2 separate regions of the Homo sapiens genome follow, and region 2 is linked to region 1. The links come from fine-mapping of genetic effects on gene expression. A gene starts in region 1. The other region holds a variant in brackets. All regions are shown on one strand. Distances are between the middles of the regions.

Region 1 (5,376 bases):
TGATTCTTGGGCCAGTGATTTAGAGCGAGTGCTCTCAGCAGCAGCGGAGTGAGAGAAGCAGGATATGGCTGGAGGAAAAAACCTAAGCTCGCTGGAAACAAGCTCTAGCCTAATCCCAGGAGGAGCTCTGGAGTAGGATTTACACCACAGAATTGGTCAACCTTGAGGCAAGGTACCCTTGTACTCTCATCATCAGTTAGTCATTGCTTTTGGCTGCAGGGTTGTGTGTGTAGGGGTTGGGGTTATTAAACAGAAATCTCCCAGGCAATGAACCTCTTCTGCAGAGTGCAATTCTGCAGAGAAGGAAGCAGCTGTATTCATCAGCTAATACCCACAGCAGCTGGGGGATGGATCTATCTGCCTTGTAAAGGGGGCCTGAACTGGTCACCAGCTGTGTAAAACACTATGGTATAGAAACACTGTCATATATATGTTAGGACCCCAGAACAGCTCTGAAGAAACAAATAACTGAAACATACTGAAGAAAGCACTGCAGAACCTGAACACTTAAATTATGTACGTAGAGCATTGCTTCTAAAAATATGCTATGAGTACGACTAAGGATGCTAGGAACACATCTCCCTTTCTAACATTGGGTTTACGAACATCCTCTCCCCTCAACTACCCAGTTTGCTTAGCAGTAGCAGCTGGTGGTGAATTCTGCCATTAGGGCAAGATGCCCAGCAAGGAAAGAACTGGGTTGGTTAGGAGAATTTAAGGCAGATGAAGTCTCTGGAATGGGGATATGGTGTGTAGGGTGAAAGGAGCTAAAAGGGAAAGGTTTCTTTGTGTATGAAACCCACTCACCAATCTCCACCATTTGTTTATTTCTACCGGCCCTAGAGACACTCTTGTTGGCTCGTCTTTCCTCTGCCAACACTTTTGCTTTGCATCAGGATTTTTCTCTTTCCTCGCCTCTGAAACTCGACTTCTCACAGCTCTACCCCTTACACTGACACTTTCTAATAGTTTGACAGCTAGAAATAATGGAGAAAATTAAGTAAAAAGTCTTTCCGTGCTACCTCTGTTATTTTTGTTTTTAAATTTGGCCAAGCCCAGACATGTGTGCTATCGTTGGGTGTTGGGGGAAAAAATAAAAGACAAGATGATTTGTCTGCAATTCAAACCCAAGAGGGTTTCCTAGGTGTGGAGTGATGGGTTCTGAAATGCCAAATGAGAAAGAAGGTCAGGGAGCTACAAAAGAGGTACAGAGGTAGGGACAAGGCAGTGCTTCATTTACCTTCAGCAAACCTGGTGATTTACCTTCTCCTTCAGTCCCTTCACCATCACCAATCCTTCCCCTGAAAAAACCATTGTGGACTGCCTGATGATAAGTTGGGAAGTGAGAGTGGGTAGGTGTGGAGCAAGAATAACAACATCCTGGGTACCGTACATTCTGAAGGAACAGAGGGAATTCCTGTTTTGTTTTAACCTGGGACAGAGGGGATTGGTTTGTTCTCTCCAGGCTGAGGCAGTAATTCCTGACTCTAGGGACTGCTGATATGGAAATTACTACTACCACTCTGGGTGGAGTCAGATGAGTATATTAAAGAGTCTCATTGTACTGTCCTAAAATAAGCAAGATCTTTGCTAATATCCAAGCTTTACAGAACGGTGGGATGAGGTGAAGGCCCTGTACCTTTATCCCCAGTGGTCTTCAGTACTATAGGAAGTAATGGGGCCTGTGTGGCACAGTGGAGGGCAATGAGTGAGCTGGTTATGCCAATTCCTACTATAGTCACCTCCTTGGCTGCCAGCCTTCAAGGGAGAGATCTTTGCCTTAGTGGGTTCTGCCCTTCTGCTTCTGAAGAGAACCTAGTCTTTCTGTATGGGCATTCAGGCAATTCTTGGGGTGGGGAGTTGGGGGAGAGAGAGCACTTGAAAAGAATTTATGGTGGCCTTTTTCTCAGTGATATTTGAGAAATACCAAGACACATCTGAATGTATCTGAGTTTAAGTCTTGGCTCTATTTGTTATTAGCTCTGTGACCGTGGGCAAGTTATTGATTTATATGCAATCTGACTAATCTGAGTTTTCTTAGCTGCTTTAAGCAGACAAAGAGGACAGGAAAGGGTAATACACTTAAGAACCAGCAAAGGGCTATTGTGAGGATGAAGCAATAACAACAAAATGGGTTTAAAGCACTTATCATAGTGCGTGGTCCATAGAACTGCAAACGTTGGATTTTGCTTATTTTAGGACAGTACAAAGAGACTCTTTAATATACTCTTCTGACTCCAGCCAGAGTGGTAGTAATTTCCATATCAGCAGTCCCTAGAATCAGGTATTACAGCCTCAGCCTGGAGAGAACAGGGCAATCCCCTCTATCCCAGGTGAAATGATTATTATCATTTATTATTTATTAGCCAGAGGTCTTAGGTGAGATCAAATTCAATCATTATAATTTATATTTCAATATACTGCTTAACTTCATGATAGGCAATGTTCTAGGTGCTCCTCACATGTGAAATTTTAATATTTTTACTGCAACTCTGGAGGTAAGTACTATTATTATACCAATTCTACAGATGAAAAAGCCAAGGAATAGCATGCTTGAATCACTTGCCCAAGATGCCATGTTTAGATAGTGGTACAGTGGGGATTCGAACGCGGGAGCTCAGGTTTCAAAGTCTGTGCTCTTTACATATGCAGCTAAAGAGTCAGACAAGAACCAAAAGGAGATGGAGAATAGAGGGTAGAAAGGGCACAGGTTCAAGGTGAAAGGTCAGAAACTGCAAATTCGGAGTTTGGGTTGGTCTAGCAGCTTAAAGGCGTCATCATGAACTGTTCACCTAAGTAAGTTAAGCTCCTGTTTGAGAATGACTGATAAGCTTGCAAGCCAACTTACAAACAAACTGGGGAAATGTTCCAATAGATGACTAAGTCTTTTAGGTCTTTTTACCTGTGTTTTTCGGTCTCTATACCAGATTAGTCGCCTGGCTCTCCCAAACAGACCGGCCAACTGACGTAGTCGCGAAACGGTTAATGTCGAGGCGGGGGCGGGGGAGGCGGAAATAAAGAGAGCGGAAGCAAAGAGGATTGTGGGAGCTCCGTTGTGCGTCGCTTAAGTGAGGGCGGCGGATGGGCGAAGGTCCGGTGACTGCGACTGTCGCTGCTTTCTGAGGCCACAGGAAAGGGGCCGTCGGTCGCCGCCATGACAGCGAGCGAGGCGGAGGTTTGTAGCACTTCTTATGGGCTGAGGGCGTAGACACATCCTGCTTCCAGCCTAGCAGGCAAACGGGAACGGAAGTGATAGGGGATCAGAAGTTGCGAGGGGATGAGGAGTAGGGGAAACTGACAAGCGGACGGACCCGGCGGCGAGAATTGATGGCGTAGCTGTAGGATTAAGGGGCGTGTCAACTGTGTTGTGTGTGTTGACACTGAGATGTGTGAATCCCCTCATTATTTTTAGCTGGGGACAGGCGGGGTCTATGGGGGAGGGGGCGGACGGATGAATGGAGGATAAAATCAGGGCGAAAACGTGTTGTCTGCTGGGCACCAGTACATCTGAGTCACATCTCAGCAGGATGATTTTATTGGAAAGATCTAGGTCCCTGGTTTCAGATTCTGCTATTGATGCGTTGATTGATTTCCCTTACCAAAATACCAAGTACCTGCTCTGTGCTGGGTACTGCACTAGAGGCTCCGGATGAGGAAAGGAATTAGGCTTTTTCCTCGACATTTACAGCCTGCCGGTTGCTATCTGCATTTGGAGACAGGCTATTACAATACAAGGAGACAGAGATAGATCCTGTGTTATGAAAATCTATTGGGTGCCACCGAACTCATCTGGGAGTTGAGATCTGGGACGGCTCTTTGATGCGGTGATTTAACATATATTTTGAAGACAAAATAAGCAGGGCAAAAACGAAGTGCAATTTTCCTCCAAGCACCTTCCCTCCCTGTTGAGGTGAACTGGAGAACTGAGTAGCATTTAAGGCCCAAAATTAGTGTATTTCTTTTTTTTTTTCTTTCTTTCTTTCTTTTTTTTTTTTTTGATAAGGAGTCTCTCTACTTCTGTCGCCCAGGCTGGAATGCAGTGGCGTGATCTCCGCTCACTGCAACCTCCGTCTGCCGGGTTCAAGTGATTCTCCTGCCTCAGCCTCCCGGGTTGCTGGGATTAGAGGCACCCACCACCACTCCCGGCTAATTTTTATATTTTTATATTTTTAGTAGAGACGGGGTTTTACCATGTTGGCCAGGTTGGCCTCGAACTCCTGACCTCAAGTGATCCGCCTGCCTCGGCCTCCCAAAGTGCTGGTATTACAGGCATGAGCCACCGCGCCCGGTCCCCACAACTAGTTTATTTCTGGTAAGAGCATTTGCCCATCACAATGGGACTTCCAGGCGCCTCTGGAAGAATCAGTCTTACGTGAGTGCAAAGCCTGCAAGCTCTGGGTAGGACTACGATGGAGGTGCTAGTTACTTGGTTTTCCAGCAAACTCGGTTCACAGCAGGGAATTGTGCACCCACCAGAAATCCTAAGCAATATTTCTCTGAACAAGAAAAGAAGCCTCTTTGTTTACCAGAGAAACAACAGTATAGCAGTCTAAGTCAGTGGCTCTCAAACTTTCCTGTGAATCAGAATCAGATGGAGCGTTTCTTAAAACCAAGATTGCTAGGTCCCATCCACAGAGTTGCCCCTACAGTTGGTCAGGAGTGGACCCCCGAATTTACATTTCTAACTAGTTCCCAGGAGATGCTGATACTCCTGGACATGGGGCCATACTTGGAGAACTATAGGTCTAAACGGAGCTGACAATAAATTGGAAAGAATATCTCCTGGAATCTCTTAGAACCCGGGAGGCAGAGGTTGCAGTGAGCCAAGATTGCGCCACTGCACTCCAGCCTGGGCAACAGAGTGAGACTCTGTCTCAAAAAAAAAAAAAGAATATCTCCCCTAGGGAAGGCTAGGCACACTCCTAAACGTCAGGCATGTCTGAATTCAGACACAGTAGATATGAAATAAAATGGACTTATTTGACACTGCTTAGAAAATCTTTTTATTTTTATATTTGTATAATTTTATTGTATATTTACAAATTGTATACATTTATAGAGTTCAAAGTGGTATTTTATATATATACAATGTAGAATGATTAAATCAAGGTAAATAACATATTCATCACCTAAAATTTTATCTTTTTTTACACAAAAATGACTCAACATGGAATTTAATAGTTTTTTTGTGGTGCTAACATTTGAAATGTACTCTTAGCTCTTTTGGAATATGAAATTTTGAAATATCACCACCATTCTATTCTCTGTGTTTGTGGGTTCCATTGTTTTAGATTCCACATACAAGTGAGAACATGAAGTATTTGTCTTTCTGTGCCTGGCTTATTTCACTTAGCATAATGTTCTCCAGGCTCATCA
Region 2 (5,376 bases), 47 kb after region 1:
CTAGAAGTTGGATAACCTCCCACCCTCATATTCCTTCCCAGGAAGAGATGAGGAGATGCAAAAGGGGTTCAAGACAGCTTGCGATCGTCTCCTCCCGCCCCTTGCCACCTCCCCGAACACACCCCGCCCCCGACACCCAACAACACCCCCGACCTACGACAACACCCCCACCCACCTTAATCCAGGCAAATCCTAAATCCTATCCAGTCGGCAGCATCCAGATGAACCACAACTCCTTCCTCAGCGCAACCAGGCCAAGGGAGTGCTCCATCCCCTGCCTCGCAGTTACTGATTCTCCAAGCCGGGCGCCGCCCAGTCCTGGCGGGGCTTCCCCCACCCCTCTCCGCGCCGGGCAATCGCGCGTTCTTTCTTTACTTGTGCTCCACTGGTGGGCAGCATGTGCTCCCGCGTCCACAGCTCTGTTTCGCCTTCCGGTCCCCGTAGCTCTGCAGGGGAACGGGATCTCTGCCGCCTCCTCGGCCGCTAAGCGACCCGGGGCTGCCCGACCTAGCGAGTGCGCACGACCGCCCAGCGAGGGGTAGCCGAGTCGAGGCAGCACGGTTCCCAAGGCAGCCAAGGCTGCGCCCACCCTCCAGTTCGGCCCTCCGGGCAGCCGCGGTTGCTTTCAGTCTCTGGCGACTGAGACAAAAGAGCGTGACGGGCCGGGCGACGCGGCCAATCAGCGGGGCGAGGGGGCGGCCTCGCCGCACAGCCTCCGGCCCCGAAGCTACTGCTAGCAAGAAGGGGGAGCGGGCCGGCTGGCCGGCGGGCCGGCGGGCGGGGGCTGCGGCAGACAGGCGCGGGAGGCGGCACGGCGTCAGCAGCTCGGACGCACGGACTGGGCCCATTTCCCTTTCATCCGTGAGTTTGCTGCTAACCCATCTCTTCCCTTCTCCCTATCCCCTTACACCTCGGCTCTCCTCCGGGCTTTTAGACCGGATACCTTAAACACGAGGTGGGACAGAAACCAAGTGAACAATGAGAGTTCCTCACCTTTGTATAGGGGGAAGCGGGGAAACAGCGTTTACTGAGTGCTTTCTGTGTGCAGAGGCGCCTGCATGGACATCTCCTTTCCTCTTCTCAGCAGCCGTGTGAAGGAGGTAGTAGTGTGCCCATTTAACAGGAAAGGACTGAAGCACCCAGGCAGTACAGTTAGGAAGTGCAGAGTTAAGAGCTCACACCCAAGTCACCATGTCTGACTTCAAAGGCTGCCCCTTGCCAGCACTCCTCTATTCTGTCAGATTAAGGGATAGTGGAGAAAAACCAAAGCCAGATGGGAGGACCAACTTGGGATTGCATAGAATTGGTGAGCAAGAACCATTATCTCCATTTCACAGATGAAGAAACTGAGCCAGAGAGAGACAGGTTACTAGTTTTGGCCTGTATCCTGCAGCAAATAAGTTACAGCATCCAACCTAGCACCGTCTGTTGCTCTCTAGATGCTAATTCGTTGCCCTGCAGCGCTGCCTGGAGAGTATTTTTGCACAGGTAGTCTCAAACCATCTCAACAGCAGTCTCAATGTGATAATAGTGCTGAGGGAGGGGGTGAGGAGGTAGTGGGGAGAGGGCTGAGGGAAGATGAGGGCAACCTTTATGGTGCCCATTGTACAGAAGAGGAAACTCTTCTTGGTACTTTTCTTTCTTTCATTTTTTTTATTAATCTTTTTTTCTTTTCTTCTTTTTTTTTCTTTTTACACAACAAGCTGCCTGTTTTATAAAAGCAACATAATTTCGACAGCCCTTTGTGACCCCAAAGAGGCCAGGCTCAGAGAGGTAAAATGATTTGTCTGAAAATACAAGGTGAAGCCAAAATTTGAACTGAGTCTCTGAATCCAGAACTCATGCTATTAACCAAAGTGTGAGTACAAGGTGAGCTGCCTCAGAATCATTTTGGAGAGCTTGTTATAAATGTAGATTATTGGGCCTTACCCCTGGGGGATTTTGATGTAGTAGGACTAGGGGTGAAGAGTGTGATTTGTAGTTTTAACCAGCCCTGTAGTTGATTCTGAGGTGTAGAGAGATTCATGAACCACTTTTCTAAACACCACCACGTGATGCTGAAGGTTATAAGTAAATGGGCCTGCCATCAGTGTATCTGTCCATGGCATATCTGTCATGAAATGTAACTCCAGAGCACAGGTTCCTACCCGAGGTCCTTCCTGGAATTGTATGCAAAGAATCTGGACTCCGTACATTCTTCTGAGCCCACAGCTTTGCAGATTTTCAAATGGGTCTGTCATAACGTCTTCCTTCTTCAAGCCATGCTTGATGAAGAAGTGTGAGAAATAAAACCCCATTTAACCTAACCCCCAAACCACAGCTCTCTGTTGCTGATATGGCTCTTTCATTTCCTGGCTCAAGGACAGGTTGCTAGGTTGCCCTTCTGTGAGCTCTTCAGGGTACTTCTCCTTTGCTGGATTTGGCATCACTGGCCCCAGAGAAGGAGCAACTCCATGGAAACGGCATGCAGGGCTGTCCAAAGTGAATGGCCATGAAGGCAGTGGCTGGAAAACCTGCTCCATTTTTCCCTGACTTAGAGAGCAGGTATTACTTCCTTTATGTATAGTGTGGCTAGGAGGCTTCTGTGGGGCTTGTTCTTGACTCCTGATGTTTAGAAGCAAGTAAACAGTCTGATGCCCTTCCGCTGCTGTTGGCTTCATCTTCAGTCTGCCAAGGTACTTCACTTGCTCCTTTCCGCCCTCTTATTTACAACCCCAAGATCTAGAGTTCCTTGGAGTAAACAATAAAAATTTGGAGATAAGCACCTTCCATCTCAGGATCATGGTCTGTGGATGGAACAGTGGGGTAGTGGTGGTGGAGGCTGGAAAGTGTGGATGTATGGAGAAGGCAAGTTGCTCACCTCACACACTTAGGGGTGATGCTGGCAGTTGCTCTTAGGTTTCCTTCAGACTTTTGCTTCTGCTCCCCCATCCCGTGACATCTGACCCTTACCTCCCAGAAGAGTCTTGTTCAGTGTTTAAATTGGCTTTATCACCAAATTAGGTATTTGCAGCTGGACTTGGTAGGGATGGAATCACATAGGACCAAGAATAGGTGTCAGAGCTCAGACAAAAATAATGACAGGAAATGGATTGTGTAAAGGTGCCAGGGTTGGGCTACTAGAACAAAGCGAGGGACTCTTCATGCAGGGATGGGGGTAGTATTTGCAACCTGGCTTCAATTGGATACAGGACAT[G/CCTATCTCTG]GCCTCACATGTATGAGTGTGTTCCAACTGATGCCTCTAATGAGACCACATTTTCTAATTTCAACAAATAAACCTTAAAAGCTTGAAGGTTTGGAGATAAAGCTTTCAGTTGAAACAATAATAGCTGCCTTTGGCTGCCTGCCTCCTTTGTGCCAGGAACTTTCTGTCTGTTATCTCTTTTAAGCTTCTTATCAACCCTGTTGAGACAGCTATTGTATCCCATTTTGCAGAAAGGGAAACTGAATTTCAGGGACATTAAGTAACTTGTGTCAGGCTTCACAACTTGTAAGTGGAGGCACTGAGACTGCAGGCCAGGGATGTCGAACTCCAAAGCCCATGAAAACTCTTCTTTGCTGCCTTCCAAACAAGCAGTCCAAAATGCATTCTGTAGATAACCCAGTTCATTAGACCAATTGCAGCCTTTAGAACAATTTAATTGTTATCTTGCCTTTATTCCTATTATCTCATTTTTAAAAAATGAAACTGCTAATATAACTTATGAAGCAACTTATATACCAGGTGCTGTGCTAAGCACTTTCCATACTTTGTCTCATGCATCCTTCATGACAATCATTTTACATATAAGGATACTGAGGATCAGCGAGATGATGAAACTTGGCCAAGGTTATAAAGCTAGGAAGTGACAGAGTGAAATTCAAACCCAGGGCTGCCTGTATCCAGAGCCCATCTCTGTGCCCTACAACACAATGCAGCGGAGAAGACAAATGTGGTCCTCATCTTAAATGGGCTTCTCTCTGTCAACCACAGCTCTATTTCCTTCTCACCACATGGGGTAGGCCAGCCCCATGCACAACTCACACTCTTAAGCCTATGTGCCTTAGGCCACTTCCTCAGCCTAGAATGCTTGCCCTCACTCCCCTACCTAACAACAGCCTATTCTACTCTACTCAATTAAGGATTGAGTCATATGCCCCTTCTCAGGTGGAATAAATTGCTGTTGTCTTTTTGCTTCCACCTTCATTACTGTACCCTTTATTTTGTCTTTCTGTAGAGTTTAGCACACTGTTGACCTGTCTCCCAAGCTAGTTGACTAGATTTCTAAGCACTTGAGGGCAGGCACCAAGTTCTATTCACTCTAGCTCTATGGTGGTTTACCCACAATGATTTAGTGGATGATCAATACATGTTTGTGAGCAGACCAAAGGACTGGCTGAGAGATGCCCTGAATGAACAGACAAATGCATTCATTTGTGGCTGGATCCTGGGGCAGTCACACAGTCTACCCATGTGGACTAGACTGGCTGGGAGAGTCTGGAATCCTCTGGGCTCATTTTACTAGGCTGTAAACATAGGAGGCAGGTCATAGGGTACAGGTGATATCTGCTTAAGGCCAACTCTAGGTCCATTCTGTGGTCTATACTTTGAATTCATGTGAAGGGGCCAGGCTCTCCTAGATTGCTTATGTTGCACCTTCCTATTTGTGGAAGTAAGGGCTTCCCTGCCTCCCTTGGGAACAGAAGATTTGTTCCCAAATGCCCCTGTATCTGGTTATGGCTGTCCCGAGAGCATCCAGAAGGAGCATGCGTTCTGTGGAGACAGATAGTGAAGTCCAGAAGCATCTTTTTTTGATCCTTCTTATCAAGGCCACCATGTTATGGATTCTCAACCACTTTGTCTCATTTTATGTTATTAATCTCTGCCACAACGTTTTGAGGTGGATCTTAATACCCCTGTTTTGTAGCTGAAGAACCTGAGACTGAATGAAATGTCTTTTCCAAGGTCACACAACTAAGTGGCAGAGGCAGAATTCAGTCTCGGGTCTGTCTGCCCTTTCCAAAGCCTGGCATCTTAACAGAAAATACATGGGAGAAACACGAACTCCCCTCCCATAAAATGGAAAGGATTGGATTTATAAAATGGATTACATATTAAGGTTAGATGTTTCTCAATTATTGTTCACCTTTATTCCCCCAAAATGATTTACAAAAATGGCAGAAGGAGTTGGGGATTGAAAAGTACAATTCCTCTATCAACTATTGACCTGAATGCCCAATATCACCCCCCTCTGACAGATACAGTATGGAGATGACTAAAAATTATTTTGCCCTTTCTGCTCCATTTACAGCTCAGATGGGTAAGGCTCCAAGATGTCACTGAATTTCTAAAGGTCACACATCAAGTTGATAATAAAACTCACTTAGAATGCTGGTATCTCATAC

Alleles and levels. Alleles are on the strand shown, and positions count from the first base shown. SD is a standard deviation of normalised expression in the study named.
For the expression in testis of the gene that starts at base 3,044 in region 1, G is the high allele of the variant in region 2 and CCTATCTCTG is the other (small effect, 0.21 SD a copy in GTEx).

Evidence for each region. PIP is the estimated chance that this variant, and not a neighbour inherited with it, causes the effect.
Region 2: its variant is fine-mapped to the expression of SLC25A53 in testis (GTEx, PIP above 0.99).

Annotation. Positions count from the first base shown.
Region 1 is chrX:104,154,677-104,160,052 of GRCh38, reverse strand. SLC25A53 (solute carrier family 25 member 53) reads left to right here and starts at 3,044. Exons shown (of 2, transcript NM_001012755.5): 1 at 3,044-3,175. It also overlaps a transcript of FAM199X not described here. RefSeq lists an enhancer at 2,971-3,270.
Region 2 is chrX:104,107,801-104,113,176 of GRCh38, reverse strand. The region is part of intron 1 of SLC25A53 (solute carrier family 25 member 53); the gene reads left to right. ZCCHC18 (zinc finger CCHC-type containing 18) reads right to left here and starts at 654. Exons shown (of 3, transcript NM_001143978.3): 1 at 176-654. RefSeq lists a silencer at 704-933 and an enhancer at 2,131-2,370. The variant G/CCTATCTCTG (reference allele first, on the strand shown) is at 3,197.